Linked DNA regions of Homo sapiens: region 1 is linked to region 2. Evidence: fine-mapped expression QTL. Tissue or cell type: whole blood. Region 2 holds a variant in brackets; the other region holds the start of a gene. All regions are shown on one strand. Distances are from middle to middle.

Region 1 (8,104 bases), 55 kb after region 2:
TTGCCACTAGAGAAAGCTTCATTGTTCACATTGTGGGACTAGTTCAAGCCAGAATCATCCAGATGCTCTTGGTATGGGCCGGCATTTACGGTCTGGATCCCAGAATGCAACATTGAAAGGAACAGCTCATTAAAAGAGCCAGCACATGCAGCTTTTGGGGCTTGCCCTGTGCCTTGGTTACCTTGGACAAGTCATGGAACCTCTCGAAATATATATTAATAGCAGCCCAAGCCACCTCATAGTCAGGGGGTGAGGTGGGGCATCACAAGGATCTTCTATAGTTCTTTAATTATTTCACAGTGTCCACAATTTGTCATTCCAACTAGACTATAAGCTTAAAAGCCACGAACTTTTTTTTGTTTTGTTTTTTGAGACGGATTCCCACTCTGTCGCCCAGGCTGGAGTGTAGTGGCACGATCTCGGCTCACTGCAAGTGCCGCCTCCCAGGTTCACACCCTCAGCCTCCACAGTAGCTGGGACTACAGGTGCCCGCCACCACGCCTGGCTAATTTTTTGTATTTTTAGTAGAGATGAGATTTAACCATGTTAGCCAGGCTGGTCTCGATCTCCTGACTTTGTGATCCACCCACCTCGGCCTCTTTTTTTTCTTTTTTGAGATGGAGTCTCGCTCTGTTGCCCAGGCTGGAGTGCAGTGGTGCAATCTTGGCTCACTGCAACCTCTGCCTCCAGGGTTCAAGCGATTCTTCTGCCTCAGCCTCCTGAGTAGCTGTGATTACAGGCACGCACCACCACGCCTGGCTAATTTTTGTATTTTTAGTAGATACGGGGTTTCACCATGTTGGCCAGGCTGGTCTCGAACTCCTGACCTCATGATCTGCCCACCTCAGCCTCCCAAAGTGCTGGGATTACAGGCATGAGCCACCAAGCCCAGTCCGATCACGAACGTTTTTTAAAGCCTGCTACCTTTTTTTGTCCAGTTGACAAGGGCTAACCATAGTGCTGGCCACATATCAGTCAATCAAGTAAATATGGACACAGTGGAGAAATGGTGTTGTCACACCAAACCGTTTGTGGTGTTCATTCAAATGGGACGGACTTGTATTATGTGCACCAGAATTGAACTTCCAAGTTGGCTGCGTGCAATGTAAGCCCTACCCAACAACTTGAAGGCTTGTTTTAGTCACTAAGGATGTTTACCCACAGTGACTCTCAACTGATTCTAGAAAGAACACACCCCCCACATACATACACATACACACACACACACACACACACACACACACACACACACACTAGGGCACTTACTCGCATGGTACCACGTCTCAGAGCTCATTAAAAAGAATTCCTGGCCGGGAGCAGTGGCTCATGCCTGTAATCCCAACACTTTGGGAGGCTGAGGCGGGTGGATCACAAGGTCAGGAGTTCGAGACCAGCCTGGCCAACATGGTGAAAACCCCCCTCTACTAAAAATATCAAAACTAGCCAGGTGTGGTGGCGGGTGCCTGTAATCCCAGCTACTCGGGAGGCTGAGGCAGGAGAATCGCTTGAACCTGGGAGGCTGAGGTTGCAGTGAGCCGAGATCATGCCACTTGCACTCCAGCCTGGGCAACAGAGCAAGACTCCGTCTCAAAAAAAAAAAAAAAAAAAAAAAAGAATTCCTAAGCTAGCCACACTTAGGTTTATTCTCTAGTCTTCTGTTCCCAAACCCTGAATACATGTTCCTTGGAGGAAACAAGCAGCAACCAGATGTCCAAGGTCTCCTGAGTTAACTCCGTCTTCCCTGGTGAATTACAACTTATTGCAGACACAAAGGAGAACAGAGAGACAAATGACACATAAACAGGAGCTTCACTGGCTGGGGGAGGGGGGCATGGAGAGTGACGTCAGTTTTCCCAGAAACCCATTTATCACGATAACAAGGTCTCGAGTGCTTAGGCTGCTCTTTCAGCTTCAGAATCTGGCGTACAATTATGTTCTTCATCATACAGTATGGCAAGGCCAGCCAGAGCAAACTGGAGCCATGCAAAGCAAACCAAGTGGCCCTAAAGCACCCCCTCACCCCCATCTGCAGAACAAAGGGCATCTCTAGGTTGCCTGAGTTGTGCCTGAGGTGAAACACACACAACCTTCTGGAATGTTCCCCATTGCAACATCTGCCCTGCAATCCTAATCCAGGCAAGAGAAACTGGTGAGAGTATGGAGGACAGGTCGATGCAAATTCATTAGCTGACATGAAAAATCATTAGCGTCATTTTTGGATGGAGCTAGTGTAATCCCAGAGATTAATTCCTCTACTTCAGCTATACCATCTCTGAAATGCAGGTAACCAGGAGCAGAAAAGCCACAGCAGAAAAGAGGGAGCCCTCAAAACACTAAAGCAATAAACAACGAGAGTGCCAATCTTGGGGGAAGAAAATTCTCTCAAATTGCATCATCACAGAGAATGTCCCCTGTCTACTCCTGGTCCTTCCACAACATGACTGCATAAAGTGCTCTGTGCTAGGGTGTGCAGGGGGTGGAGGAGGTTCCGAAGAAATGATCCTGCCCTTCCAAACAGGGACAAAAGAGACATTAATACATATTCTGTAGAGAAAATATTATCAGATTCTGGCTTCAGATTTTGTAAAATCAATTTCAATTACACCAAATACCTAGAGGCTTTTTTTTTGTACTGTAGTTGCATTGCATGAACTATTTTCCTAAATAAGTAAGCTACAAGGTTGAAAAACATTTTTATGTGGTTCAGAGATTTTCGTCAAGTAGTATGTGGTGTCATGGGATTTGACCTACCTCTGTCTCCCACTCCTTCCTCACCTCGGGGTGCTGGTGGGCTTATTAAAGTCCCAGATACCCATGGATGAATAGAATAGCTAGGGTGTCCCCCCCAAATGGAATTCATCGCCCTTTGCAACCAAACTTCTGGTTTAAAAAACAAACATGGAGCCTCAGGTCACTTCAACATGGTTTCTCTGCACATCCCAGGCTGGAAAACTTCAGTTCTTTAAATGAAGATTTTTTTTTTCCCAGAGTCGGTCGCCAACAAAAAAAGAGACGGCACCGCTTTTGCGAGTCTCACACTTATTTTCCTGAGTCTCCATAGAAAGAAGCCAGCTCCACAGGTTTTGGCACACAAGCCCAGTTACACTGAACATGCACCCGAGACAGATCCTCAGAGGCCCGCTCCAAAACATGCCAAAATACGCAGCCAGCCACCTACAGGCCAGCCAACTGCACCCCACACTGACGCACAAATGAGACCCAGAGGCACACAGCACAAGCAGACAGAGAGGCGTTCGGACACACACCACAGAGGTGAGCACACTCAGAGAAACACGCGGACTTCTTTGGGTCACAGACAGAACCCCGGCGCCGCCGCCGCCCGCCCGGGAAGACACGAGCGCGCGCGCGTGCACACATACGCGCACACCGATACACACACAGACGCAGTCACATATGTAATGCATATAGAGAAACCCTATCCCAGCCAGTCACCTCCCCGCCCCCCTCGCCACTCACCGCCTTCTGCCCCAGGCTAACCCCAGCCCCGCGCCTCTTTGCCTGTGCGGTCCCGGGTCACAACGGGCAGCCGTGCGCAGGGGCGCGGCAAGGCCAGGGTGCCAGGGACCCGGAGGGCTCGGCGGCTCCTACGGCCATTCATTCGGCAACGCCCCAGCCGTGGGGCCGCAGCTGCAGCGAGGGAGGCGGTGGCGCTCACTGCGGCTCTTGGGCAATGCAAGTTCAGCCGCCGGCCCGCAGGTTTTGCCTGCCCCCCTGCCGCCCCCCGCCCCCCGCGCGCCACCACCGTTTTCCGGGACAGGCTGAGGGACTGAGCTGCTGACCCCGGGAGCAGAAGTCCCACCGTGCCCTTGGCTCCTGGATGCTGCCCACTGCCCTCCTCGCGATGTGGCGGCGGCGGCCAGGTCTCCTTGACCCTCACCAGGCCCTCGGCCCCGGCCCTGGCACCCAAGCTCTGCACTTACCACCTGGCGAGCTATATCGGTCGCTGCCATCGCTCCTGCGTCCGCCAGGGCTGCCACGGGTGCCGCCGCAACGGGAGCTACTGCACAGGAAACAGAGGAGCTCCTCCGACAAAGAGAAAGTGTTACACTTCGGGCGCGACCAAGTCCGGTGGGGGGAGGTGCAAGGGAGGGGCCCCCTCGCCGCTGCTCCAACCCCAACCTCCCCTCTACCGCCCACCCCTTGAAAGTAGGGTATGGAGAGGGGGCGGATTTAACGCGCCGCTTCCCCCTATGGCCAGACCAGTTCCAGTTCTTCCTGCAACCCCAGCCATAGGCTTCTACGAAGGGGGGCGGGGGCTCCCCTCGGTGACCACGTCCTCTGCCCCCCCCGCCACTTGGCTCCGTGGTACGTCCCGACCTCTGCTGAATTGTCACACCCCCCTGCTCTCCTTTACATCCCTAAGTCCCCAGACCCCGAAGGCTGGAAGGGAGCCCCCGCCCCTCCCCCCTCCCATACTCTGCTCAGCGGCCGAGCTCTGCAGTTCTCCTCCCGGCCCCCGTTACCCCCCTTCCTTTCCACCGAGATCCCAAGGTGCTTAGATGGGTGCGCCTTGGCCGCTGGAGTCTCGATGCCCCACTGTCGTGTCTCCCTCCCTCCATGGCCCGGGAGCGCAGCTGCGGCCGAGGTACCGGGGAGGCCTGCGGCACCTGCCGCTCCACAGTAGAGCTTAGAAAGGGGGCCCGTGGGGGGAGCCGCACTGCAGCCCGGCAACTGAGCTGAGCTGTGGCATGTGGGGTCCGAGGCTAGAGGTCTTGAGACGCTGCTTCTGCCCTGGGGTTTCCAAGCCTTGGGTGCTGTGGGCTGTAATTTCGTGGAGCCAAGCTCACCACCTTTGGGTACCTAGTACAGACGGAACCCACGCCTCCTCTCTCCGACCCAGCCCTAGACGCTCAGCAAGACCACCCACCCCTTCTAGTACCAGAGGAAGGGCTGGAGATGAAGGTTCTCAGCTCTATGGAGCGAAATGGAGGGGCGGGTGACGGGGAGCGGCCTCCAGTCACTCTGTCCCGCCCCCTGATTTCTCCTTGACCCTCATTCAGCCCGGGACAAGGCGGCCAATAGGGCGCAGAGGAGAGAACTTCCGAAGGCAGGGGTGCGCCCGCCCGCCCTCCTTATCCCCGTGGCCCACCTCCGCGGGTCCTCTCTCGTGGGCACCTCTCCACTTCTCCGGCCTTGGCGCCCTCCCCTCTCTCTTGGGACTGGCCTCTTGCTAGCTCCCTGTCACTGGAGCACGCTGGCAGATTTGGCATGCCCGAGGCCCCAGCGGGAGGGACAGTACATTCCACTCCTCAAAAGGGCAGGTTCCCTGGTGTGGGAGAGAGACCTGGGCCCGCCAGAGGGACCCCAGATGGGGGAGGGGATGACAAGGCTATGGAGGAAACCCGGGCCCAAGAGGGGGCCCCAATGGAGCATGGAAGATGACCCCGTAAAGGCCCAAGGCTGGAGCAGCTGAGGAGGAGGCAGGAGAGAGGGAAAAAGAAAAGAAGGAACCAGGGAGAGAGAGGAAGAAGGGACTCGATCCAGAGGCCCTGGTCTCGGAGAAGTCAGGGAAGACAAGAAAATGGAGTAGCCAAAGAAGAGCATGCCTGGCACTTGGTTCCACCTGCTGGATGGAGCTTCTCACACTCTCTCGGGAAGCCCTTTATGTATGTACCCTGTGCGCCTGGAGAACAAGGACTCAGCAAACGCATCCCAGGGCCGAGTGCAGGGCCTCGCAGTCAGGAGGCACTCTATTAAGCTGAGGGCAGAGAACTTGGATGCGTGCGAGGGGGGCGGGGAGAAGAAAGAAGAGACACAGTGAGGGAATAGCAGTAAGGACAGTCATGAAGAGCCAAGTATTCAGGGAGCGCCACTGTGCGCCTTCATTGTGCTGGAGACCCAGGAGCGGCCTAAAGAGAAGAGCCTGGCAAAATCAGGGATCAGCGCAGAGGAGCTCCGCGAGACAGAAGGCGCAGGCCATAGGGCGGATGGCGGTGGCAAGGAAGAGGGGCAGCTGGAGTCTTTCAGACTCTCTGGAGCTTTGGGGCAGGGCCTGAGCCCTGGACTGGGTTGGCAGTGACACGGGGGACCAGTGCTATATCTGAGGAACCACGGTGAGGCTTGGGCCCCAACCGCATGGGGGCGGGGAGTCAGAGGTGACTGGCGGCTTCCAGGCTGGGTGTCTGGGACAGGGCTCTTCCCTGGCAAAGGCTAGGGCGTGGTGGACTGAAAGGCCCCGAGGTCACTAGCCCCGATCTGGACTTGGGGTTTGGGTGGTGGTGGGACAAAAGGGGAGAATTTGGAAGCCAGAGCAGAAAGCTGCTGCCGGAACGGGAGGGGACTGGAGGGCTGCGGGTCTCCCGGGAGAATCCCCCACGCACTGCCCCGCCCGCCTTAGCACTCCTCGCGGACTGAAGCTCCGTACTTACCGGCCCAGCGCTGGGGGCACCTGAGCACGGAATCCTTGGTGTCTCATCCATATGCCCCATTCGGCCCTCCTGTCCCTAGAGACTACCAGAACCTCACTGCGTCCTCCTCCTCCAAAACGCTGAACCTCGAAGACCTGAACTAAGTGCTTAATTCAAGTCTCCTGGGACCCTTTGGTTCCTCCAATACCTGCCCACCTGCGGCTACAAGTCCCTCCTGGGGCCTGGGCCTCCAGCCTCCTTCGGTGGGGTGTGGGTCAGTGTGTGTGTTGGTCTTGATGTGTGAGTAGATGTGTCGGTGTGTTCGTGTGTATTGTCAGTGTGTGCTAGCTGTGTGTCTGTATATCTGTGTGTCAATGTGTGTGTTGGCATGTGTTGGTGTGTCAGTGTATTTCAATGCATGGTGAGTGTATGTGTGTCAATATGGAGAGAGGTGTTAGCTCACTAGCTTTACATACCTTATCTCACTCAGTGCAGTGGGCCGACGACTGAGACGTGTGAATCAGAACATTCATTTCAATAAAGAGGTTTGGAAACTCTCTGGGATCATGCCTTTCTTTTTTTTTCCTTTTTTATTTTTTTTTTGAGACGGAGTGCTCTGTCATCCAGGCTGCAGTGCAGTGGCGTGATCTCTACTCACTGCAACCTCTGCCTCTTGGGTTCAAGCAATTCTCTGCTGCAGCTGGGACTATAAGCGCCCACCACCACGCCCAGCTATTTTTTTTTTTTTTTTTTTTTTGTATTTGCAGTAGAGACAGGGTTTCACCATCTTGGCTAGGCTGGTCTTGAACTCCTGACCTCGTGATCCACCTGCCTCGGCCTTGCAAAGTGCTGGGATTATAGGTGTGAGCCACCGCACCCGGCCTGAAATCATGCCTTTCAGTCTTTGTCCCGGGTCACCTTCCCAAGAACAGGGGAGATGGAAGGGCTGAGGAGGCAAGAGGGCTCATGAGTGGTCAGTTCGTGAGTTTTCTTCCTTGAATGTCTGTCCTCGTTGATGAGTGAAGCCAAAAGATTCCCCTTTATGAAGAGTCATTTGGGACTCCCGGGCGCTTCCATGAACATGTATGTGCTCATGTTTGATGTTTCCTTGTGGGGTCCCTTGGGCCCAGCATGGTGTCTGGCAGGTGTTCAATCAATGTTTGTTGAGTAAAGGAATGAACAGAAGCATGTAAATGAGGTGGCTTCAGTATTTCCATGTCCTTAAAGAAGCTGCAACAAACAGAGACTTCCCAGGGGCAAGCAGGTGGCTGTCATTAGCATGCCAATGTTTGTGGAGCCAGACTCTACTGCCTGGGAGCAGAAATGGCTACCCCTGCTAGATAAGAGTGGGCCCTAATTGGAGCCCAGCTTTCCACAGGTCACTGCTGGAGTTGGGGGTGCTAATACTGGATAGAGGAGCAGCAAGCAACTCAGGGGCAGGGAGGGAGAAGAGGGCACTGAAATGGAGCTAAGAGGTCAGGAAAGGGCTTTGTCCTGAAACTGTGGCTTTGTGATAGGAGAACGAGAAAGATGGTAGAGTCAGTCTCAAGTGGAGAAGCCCTGAGAACCATCTGAAAAATAAGATCAGAAAGTTGGAGGAGGGGCCGGGCGTGGCGGCTCATGCCTGTAATCCCAACATTTTGGGAGGCTGAGGCAGGTGGATCACTTGAGGTCAGGAGTTCGAGACCAGCCTAGCCAACATGGTGAAACCCCCGTCTCTACTAAAAATACAAAAA
Region 2 (8,104 bases):
GATGCTAGTCACTCAGCCTCTAGAGCCAACAGCCATCATACCTGCCATCAAGGAACTCATGGTCTAGTGGGAGATGCCCCTGGCCTAAGCTTATTTTTAAAGAAATAGGAGATAGGCTGGGTGCAGTGGCTCACGCCTGTAATTCCAGCACTCTGGGAGGCCAAGACGGGTGGATCACCTGAGGTCAGGAGTTCGAGACCAGCCTGGCCAACATGGTGAAACCCCATCTCTACTAAAAAATACAAAAAATTAGCCAGGCGTCGTAGTGGGCGCCAGTAATCCCAGCTACTCGGGAGGCTGAGGCAGGAGAATCACTTGAACCTGCTAGGCGAAGGTTGAAGTGAGCCGAGATTGCGCCACTGCACTCCAGCCTGTGTGACAGAGTGAGACTCCATCTCAAAAAAAAAAAAAAAAAAGCAATAGCCTGGTGAAGAAGAGGTGGAACTGTGATCCAAAGAGGGCAGCATGTAAGAAAGCAGGTGTGAAGAGAGAATGACATTCTTGGGGAGCCAGGTATGGTTCAACATGGCCAGAGAGCACCATGGCAGTGGTGGAGTAGAGGCAGACAAAGTTCCTGAGCCTGGAGGAAGAGAACAGGCTTTGAATGCCATATTTAAAAATTGGATATGTACACACTGCATGGTTTTAAAGCAGGAAGTAGTACTAGATCCAATTTGAAAATGAGAAGGACCATTCCGGCTGTGCTGTGGGAAGGATAGACTGTCCATCAATCCAAGTAAGAAGTGACAGGATCTTGGCCAGGTGTGGTGGCTCATGCCTGTAATCTCAGCACTTTGGGAGGCCAAGGTGGGTAGATCACTTGAGGTCAGGAGTTCAAGACCAGCCTGGCCAATATGGTGAAACCCCATCTCTAATAAAAATACAAAAATTAGCTGGGTGAGGTGGTGGGCGCCTGTAATCCCAGCTACTGGGGAGGCTGAGGCAGGAGAATCGCTTGAACCCGGGAAGCCAAGATTGCAGTGAGCCGAGATTGTGCCATTGTACTCCAGCCTGGGCGATAGAGCAAGACTCTGTCTCAAAAAAAAAAAAAAAAAAAGAAAGAAAAGAAAAGAAGAAGTGATAGGATCTTAATGTTAAGGGCTGGGAGGGAATGGAGGGAGCAGTAAGGGAAGCAGAACTCCCAGGACTTGGGAGGAGCCAAAGGTAATTCTGATTATCCTTGGGCAACCAGGTGGATGGTGGTATCATGAATGGCAACAGGGAATGTTGGAGACACATGCTTAAGAGGGCAGAAGATGAATTTGTACAGAGCTTGATTTTCGGGGAGGTCCTCTATGGGATGTCTGAGTGGACATCCAGGATGCAGTTGGATTAATGGGTTTAGACCTCAGAAGTAAGACTAGCTTGGGAACCATCTACTTCTAGGTGGTAATTAGGGCTGTGAGAGTAGAAAGAACCAGCTGCAAAGAGAACAGAAAGTGAAAGGAGCAGAGGCTCTAGGAAAGAATCCCGGGGGGTATATCAACATTTAAAGGAGTAAGGTGAAGAAAACGAGCCTGCAAAGGAGGCTGAGAAGAAATAGTAGGAGAGATAGGAATAGAATCAGCCAGGCCAGTGCTAGAAAAGCCAAAGGCAGAGAGCATTTCAAGGAGGCAGTGGGGAATGGCATAAAGTGCTGCGTTGATATCAAATAAGATGGAAACCAAAGGCCACATTGAACTTGGCCACAAGTCTGCGATTCCTGGCCTTGGAGAGAGGCATTTGAGTGGTTATGCTGGGGACAGAAGCCAGACTGCAGTGGATTGAGGAATGAATGAGAGATGGGGAAGAGGAACCAGTAAACATAGAACAACTCTTTCTCCTCATCCTGTCAAGGACTTCTTGACAGGACAGAGGCTGGTAAGAAAGAGCAGGGTTAAGGGAGAGTTTCTTCAGCACAAGAATGCTTACATGCAGCATGGGAAGGAGCTGGCAGAGAAGGAGTGAAGAAGGCGAAGACACAGGAAACAGAGGTATTCAGGATGGAGTGAAGGAGGAGGGAAGGAGACAAAATGACCAGGTGGAGGCACACCTACTCCTCTACAAATGCAGATGAAAGCTGCAGGTGGGGAAGACAGCCAGGGAGCTCCCACCAGAAAAAGACAAGCATGGCTTCCCCCAGCCCCACCTGTCAGTATATAGGGCATGAGCCTGTCCCTCCTGAAGCAAATATCCCCAAGGGACTGGTTAGGCTCTGACTCCAGGCCAGCTTTAGGCTGTGCACAGGTAGAGTAAGATCTCAGAGGCTCTTTGAAAGCCTTTTTAACTGGTAGACATCTCCCTCACTTGCTTATTAATGCCTGACCACCATAAAGGGCACCACGTGGTAATTTCAACTGTGGGGCTTATTTCACACATCACGCATATAGATCAGACACTTCTACTTGGCGCATTACTCCTCTCTGCATAATAACCTGCTTTCAAAAACATTCCCCTTCTCTAAAAGCATTCTGATTTAAGAAATATGGCAGTGATGATCAACATCCTGCGGTCAAAACAGAACTTGCACTTGAATGCAGACACTAAGGACAGCAATTGGAGAGCCTGCAGTTCATCGATGCATGGCAAGGGCATGCTACCTGGTCCTATCTGGGTTTGAGAATGGGGAAATGGGTAAAGAACAGACTAGAAACCTGTCTGAGCGCCAGGAGCCTGATGAAGAAAGAGGGGCAGAGGACAGTTACCAACTGCCACCTCGTGGAACAGGGCCCCAGCTTGGGGATTCCCCCCAGCGCAGCTGCTTGGAGCTGTCATGGATGCGTGCATGTGTGTGTGGTGATCAGCCTTGCTGGTCCTCTGGGCATCCTCCCTTCCCTTGCCCTTAAAAGCAAGGCGGCGGTACTTCCCAAGCCTGCTCCCCACAGCTCTCCTGGCAGGTGTGCAGAGGCAAAGGGTGAACAGGCAAGCAGAACTGGCAAGTGAGTCGCCCCTGCTCCTTGAGGTCTTAGCACCCGTGTCTCGCCTCCCCTGTGAATTCTCCAGGGGAAGGCTTCCACACCACCTGAGTGGGCTGAGCTGAGCTGGGCTGGGCTGGGCTGGGCTGGCAGGAGCGGTACCTGAAGGGTTTGCTGTCAGGGTCGGTGTCCTTGAAGCCCATCTCCTCCAGCTTACAGCGGCGATACAGCTCATAGTGCCGGGTGTGGGTCTGCTCCCGCAGATCCTCCATGTTGACCCGAATCAGCATCTCCCGCAGCTTCACAAAGTCGCAGTGGGCCTCGTTTTCAACTGCATAGCAGGATTTGGGGTATTGAAAGTATGTTGAAAGGAAGGCCAGCAGAAGCAGAAATGGATGAAACGAGAGGCAA[A/G]ATGTCTAACAGTGACGTTGCCTTGCAATCTGTGTATTTAGATCCTGCAAATTTACCTCCTCTCTTTTCTACTGAAAATGTAAATGAAAGGTTACAAAAATGCCAGTAATGAAAAACTGTGATATCATAAAAATACTTATTAAGACAGTCAGTAGCACCACAATCTAAATTCAGCAGTCAGAACCCTCAAAAGAATGTTTGGTCTGCACCACTTGTAGGACAACAGCATATATGCATCTGTCCATCCATCCATCCATCCATCCACTCATCCATCCATCCATCTATCCATCCATCCATCCATCCATCCATCCATCCACTCATCCATCCATCCATCCATCCATCTATCCATCCATCCATCCACTCATCCATCCATCTATCTATCCATCCATCCATCCATCCATCCATCCATCCATCCATCCATCCAATCAATATTTGTGGAATCTCTGTTCCCAGTATTGTGTGAGGCACTGGGAATTCAGAAACGAAGTGATGGAATCTTGCTCTCAGGAGCTTATAGTTTAGAGGAAGAATAGATACAAATAGACAAATACAATTCAGTGCACAACTACAAAAATAGAGGGATAGCCAAGTTGCAATAAAGCTCAGAAGAGGGGAACCTAAGAACTCCTGGGAAAGTGAAGACTTCACCGAAGAGAAAATCTCTAAGATGACTCTGGAAGGAAGAATAGCAATTTATCAGCCAGAGAAGGGAATGGTGTTTGCAAAGTGTCAATGAGGCTAGGCAAGGTTATGTAGCTAGTAAGTTGCAGAATTAGGGTTCAAACCCAGGCAATGTAGGGGAGGTGACAAAGTCTCCAAAGAATAAGGGGAAAGAACTAGGATATTGATAGATGACAGTGACAAGGAGGGGTGTGGACCGCAGGCATGGCCCACCTGGATGGTAGAAGCTTCCAAGGAGGTGGTTTCTTTAGAAGGTAGATAATGGCCTGACAGTAGCAGTGGTGACTAGGAGCAAGGGGACCCCACTTTCTGGCCTGTGTGAACAAGTCCCCTCCTCAAAAGAGTGCAAGCAAAGGTCTGCAATTTGGGGCAGTGGTCAAGAATGACAGATGTGGACCAAGTCATAGCAAAATCGATTTCTGGCTGGACCAGGTCACGAGGAGCACTTTGTCAAGGTGGCTACAGGTATGGCTTCACTGTGTCGGATGGTGGTATTTGCCCTGAACAAGTAGGAAAAATGGTGTCTGAAGTGAACAGGCAATCACCCCAGATTCTGTCTTGCAGGGTCTGGAAGAGGGTAGTGAGGGCAGAGAAGGGTCTGGGATAAGTGGGTCAGCCATAGTTGAAGCAGACTACCTTGTGGTCATTAATCTTTCCAAAGCCCGAATCAGCTCACATAATCCCTCTGCTTAAGACCCACTGAATTAGGAATAAAGCCCCCTGCTGTCATAGAACACAGGCTAATATTAAAGATGACATCAGTAAGACAACTTCTCAGGACTATGCTATATGCCATCTCCTCCTCCATCTCTGGACAGTGATCTCTAATGGTGAGTCAGAAGGAGTGCCTCCGAGGGCCCTGCAGGCTGCCTGAGCAATATACAACTTCTTCCTCATTCAAGCGGAACAGTCAACTTAGACTTACAAGAAAAACTTTCAAAACCCCCTTTTCTGTTTAGGTTCAGAGTAGTCCACATCAGATGAAATAAGTCATTGGAACCATGTCTACTGGCTTCTCCTCGTCTCACTTCAGGTTCCTGTTTCTCAGACCACAAGTCCATTCCCAGGGTGGGACACTGTGGGTCCAGAAACCATTTGCAAACGTTCCTAGTGGAGCATCCCCAGCTCCGAACAGCAGAGAAGACCAGAACTTAGCACAGCTCTGATAACCAGTCTTGTCCTACCTATGGAAAATCCAGCTATTGCCAGTGGGTGTGTGGGGTGTCCTAAAACATGCCAGCCTTCGTATGTGATGTGGACAACTCGCCATCCACTTTCAGGTGTTTCCCCAGTGGTAGGGATGAGTTTACAGAGAACCAGCCACTCTTTCACACGATGCCCCTATCAGCCACGGCCCAGTTTCTAGCTGTAGACTCTGAGGACCAGAGACCTCTTCTACCCACAGCGCCATCCTTGGCCTTGTCTTGTGCACTGAACTGACTAGCCCTGAGGGTAAGTTAACATATGTCAGGCAGATCACAGAAGGAACTTTCCTGAGTGTAATACAATATGTCTAATTGCTTTTCAATTGTGAAATAATCATACATACAAAGAGCATGAAATGTGTATGTACAATTTAAAGAATTTTTGAAAAATTAACACCAATGTCTCCACAACTCAGGTTAAACATTACCAGTACCTTGGAAGCCCCTGAGTGCCCTTTCCCAATCTCATCCCCCTCTATCCCTCAACTCCCCTGGCAGAGACTTAATCCTTCTCCTGACTTTGGGGATTATCATTCCTTTGTTTTTCTTTATAGTTTTACCTCTTATGTATGCATTCCTAAGAATATATATCTTGTTTAGTTTTGCCTCCTTTTGGAATTCATACAAAGGGAATCCAATGGTATGTTTCTTTCTTTCTTTTTTTTTGAATCTCACTCTGTCGCCCAGGCTGGAATGCAGTGGCAAAATCTCAGCTCACTGCAATCTCTACCTCCCGGGTTCAAGCGATTCTCCTGCCTCAGCCTCCTGAGTAGCTGGGACTACAGGCACATGCCACCATACCTGACTAATTTTTTTTTTTTTGTATTTTTAGTAGAAACGGGGTTTCACCATGTTGGCCAGGCTGGTCTCGAGCTCCTGACCTCAGGTGATCCGCCTTCTTCGGCCTCCCAGAGTGCTAGAATTACAGGAGTGAGCCACCGCGCCCAGCCCCAACACGTAGTTTTTTTAAATCCCTTATCCCCCTCCCACCCTCCCACTATCCAGTCTTTTTTTTTTTTTTTTTTTTTTTTGTATTTTTAGTAGAGATGGGGTTTCACCATGTTGGCCAGGATGGTCTCAATCTCCTGACCTCGTGATCCGCCCGCCTCGGCCTCCCAAAGTGCTGGGATTACAGGCGTGAGCCACTGTGCCCGGCCTATCCAGTCTATTTTAAAGAATATCTGAATTGTTTGTAATTATTTGTCATTACAAACAACACTACTGTGAACATTCTTCAGGTGCACTTGGGCAAGAACACATGCTTTTTCGCACACTCCTTCCTACCTTGCAAGTCCTTGTGTTTTAGGAATACCTTTCCCATTAGAAATTAGAGGGAGCTTGCTCCCATCAGAGCATCCCAGTATGGAGCCAGAGTTAGCTTGCTAGTGACCCCTATGGCTATTTGGGACCCATGCCGAATGAGCAGAGACTTGGGACAATTTAGAAACTTGTCATATAGTGGCTGGGGACAAACAAAGAGACAGACAAAAGGGGCTTCCTGTGTGTAGCCCTTCCCGGAGACTCACTCACCCTGCACAGTGCCCCAAGGATACTGCCGCGCCCTCATCATCTTGTTGCCTATCTTCAGTTCTTCTGTGCTGCCAATGACAGCAAACGGCAGGTGGGCCTGAAACCGAAGGCAAACGAAAGCTGAGAACTGCAGAAGAAAGGCACTGAGTGTTACACAACCCAACTGCTGTTCGTCTCTGGGGCCCCAGGCCCTCACCCTGCAATGTCCCTCACTGTCATCATCACCAACAAGCATTTATTAAGTTCCCAAACCATGTGAGGATAAGAGGCCTAGTCCAAGCCTCTGCTGTTCAGAAATTCACAATAGAGGGTAACAATGACATGGCTGAATGCATAGGGAACAAAGAGAGAAAATAAGCAGAATAATAAGCAGACACACAGATTACCAAACTATTCGCTATTCATAGTTACTGCTGAGGGGAAGAGCCTTTGGAAGAAGGGGAAGTGGAATGAGGGGGGTTCTGTGTGGATAGAGAGGATAAAGGAGTACCAAAGGGTCTGGGATCACTGGCCCTTCTCCCTCCCTGGCATGCAAGAGCCCCAAGACTAGGTCCATACTGAGACCACACAGCCAACTGAGCTGTACTCTCCTTGTTCTCATCCTTCCCCGGAGAAAGAGCTCACATTGAACTTGTGAGCCTAGAAGGCAAGTCACCAAGGATTTACTCACATGACCATGCTGGGTTCTTCTGTAGGTGCTATAAGGCAGACAGAAGCAGCAGAAGACACGCTCCCTCGCCCTCTAGGAGCTTACAGTCTTGTTGAGGAAGCCCAAATTACATAACTCAAGTCATATAAGATAGTATGTGATCAAGGGCTCAAGTATATGGTCTGGTACCCTGTACATAGTAGGTGCTTAATAAATACTTCCTGAATGGCAGTGGTAGGGCTAGGGAAAGAGGAAAGAAAGGCAAAGGACAAATAGGTTTATGAGCTTGGTGCTCACAGGGAAAATGAGGAGCTTGGCCTGGCTTTATGGATGAGAGAAGAGAGAGCTGCCCCGACTTGGCAGTATGGGGCCTAGGAAACACTCACAGAGCCGTAATCCACAAGGAGCTAGCCAGCTTGTAAGTGCTAAGTCACCACAGCCAGATGGAACCACGGAATCAATGTTTACTGACCAGGTGAGCCCAGGTGGGGCTTTGCCCAAAAGGGCTTTACACCAACAGGTAAAGAGCCTATGGGGAAAGTTTCTTAGCCTGCCTGCAGAAACAGGCCATGATCTCAGATATTCTGACCCATTTGCCCACTCATCCATTCTACAAATATTTACTGAGCTCCTATGATATGTGCTAGGCATTAAGAATGACGTAATAGCAAAAAAGCACAGACCCTGGCCCCGGAGAGTGCACAGTGTGCCAAGGGAGAAAGCCATCTCAACAA

The links. PIP is the estimated chance that this variant, and not a neighbour inherited with it, causes the effect.
Region 1: SEPTIN6 starts here. The variant in region 2 is fine-mapped to the expression of SEPTIN6 in whole blood (TOPMed, PIP above 0.99). The same link has a PIP of 0.9 or more in blood mononuclear cells.

The regions. Positions count from the first base shown.
Region 1 is chrX:119,689,135-119,697,238 of GRCh38, forward strand. It overlaps SEPTIN6 (septin 6), which reads right to left and starts at 4,034. Exons shown (of 11, transcript NM_145799.4): 1 at 3,942-4,034. The coding sequence starts at 3,971. RefSeq lists enhancers at 3,048-3,097, 3,918-4,047, 7,596-7,655 and silencers at 3,588-3,717, 4,228-4,277.
Region 2 is chrX:119,633,971-119,642,074 of GRCh38, forward strand. SEPTIN6 (septin 6) reads right to left here. Exons shown (of 11, transcript NM_145799.4): 6 at 6,722-6,818; 7 at 3,057-3,225. Among named protein-coding and RNA genes, the nearest start is that of MIR766, 8.8 kb to the right of the region's middle. RefSeq lists enhancers at 4,722-4,841, 5,352-5,401. The variant A/G (reference allele first, on the strand shown) is at 3,306.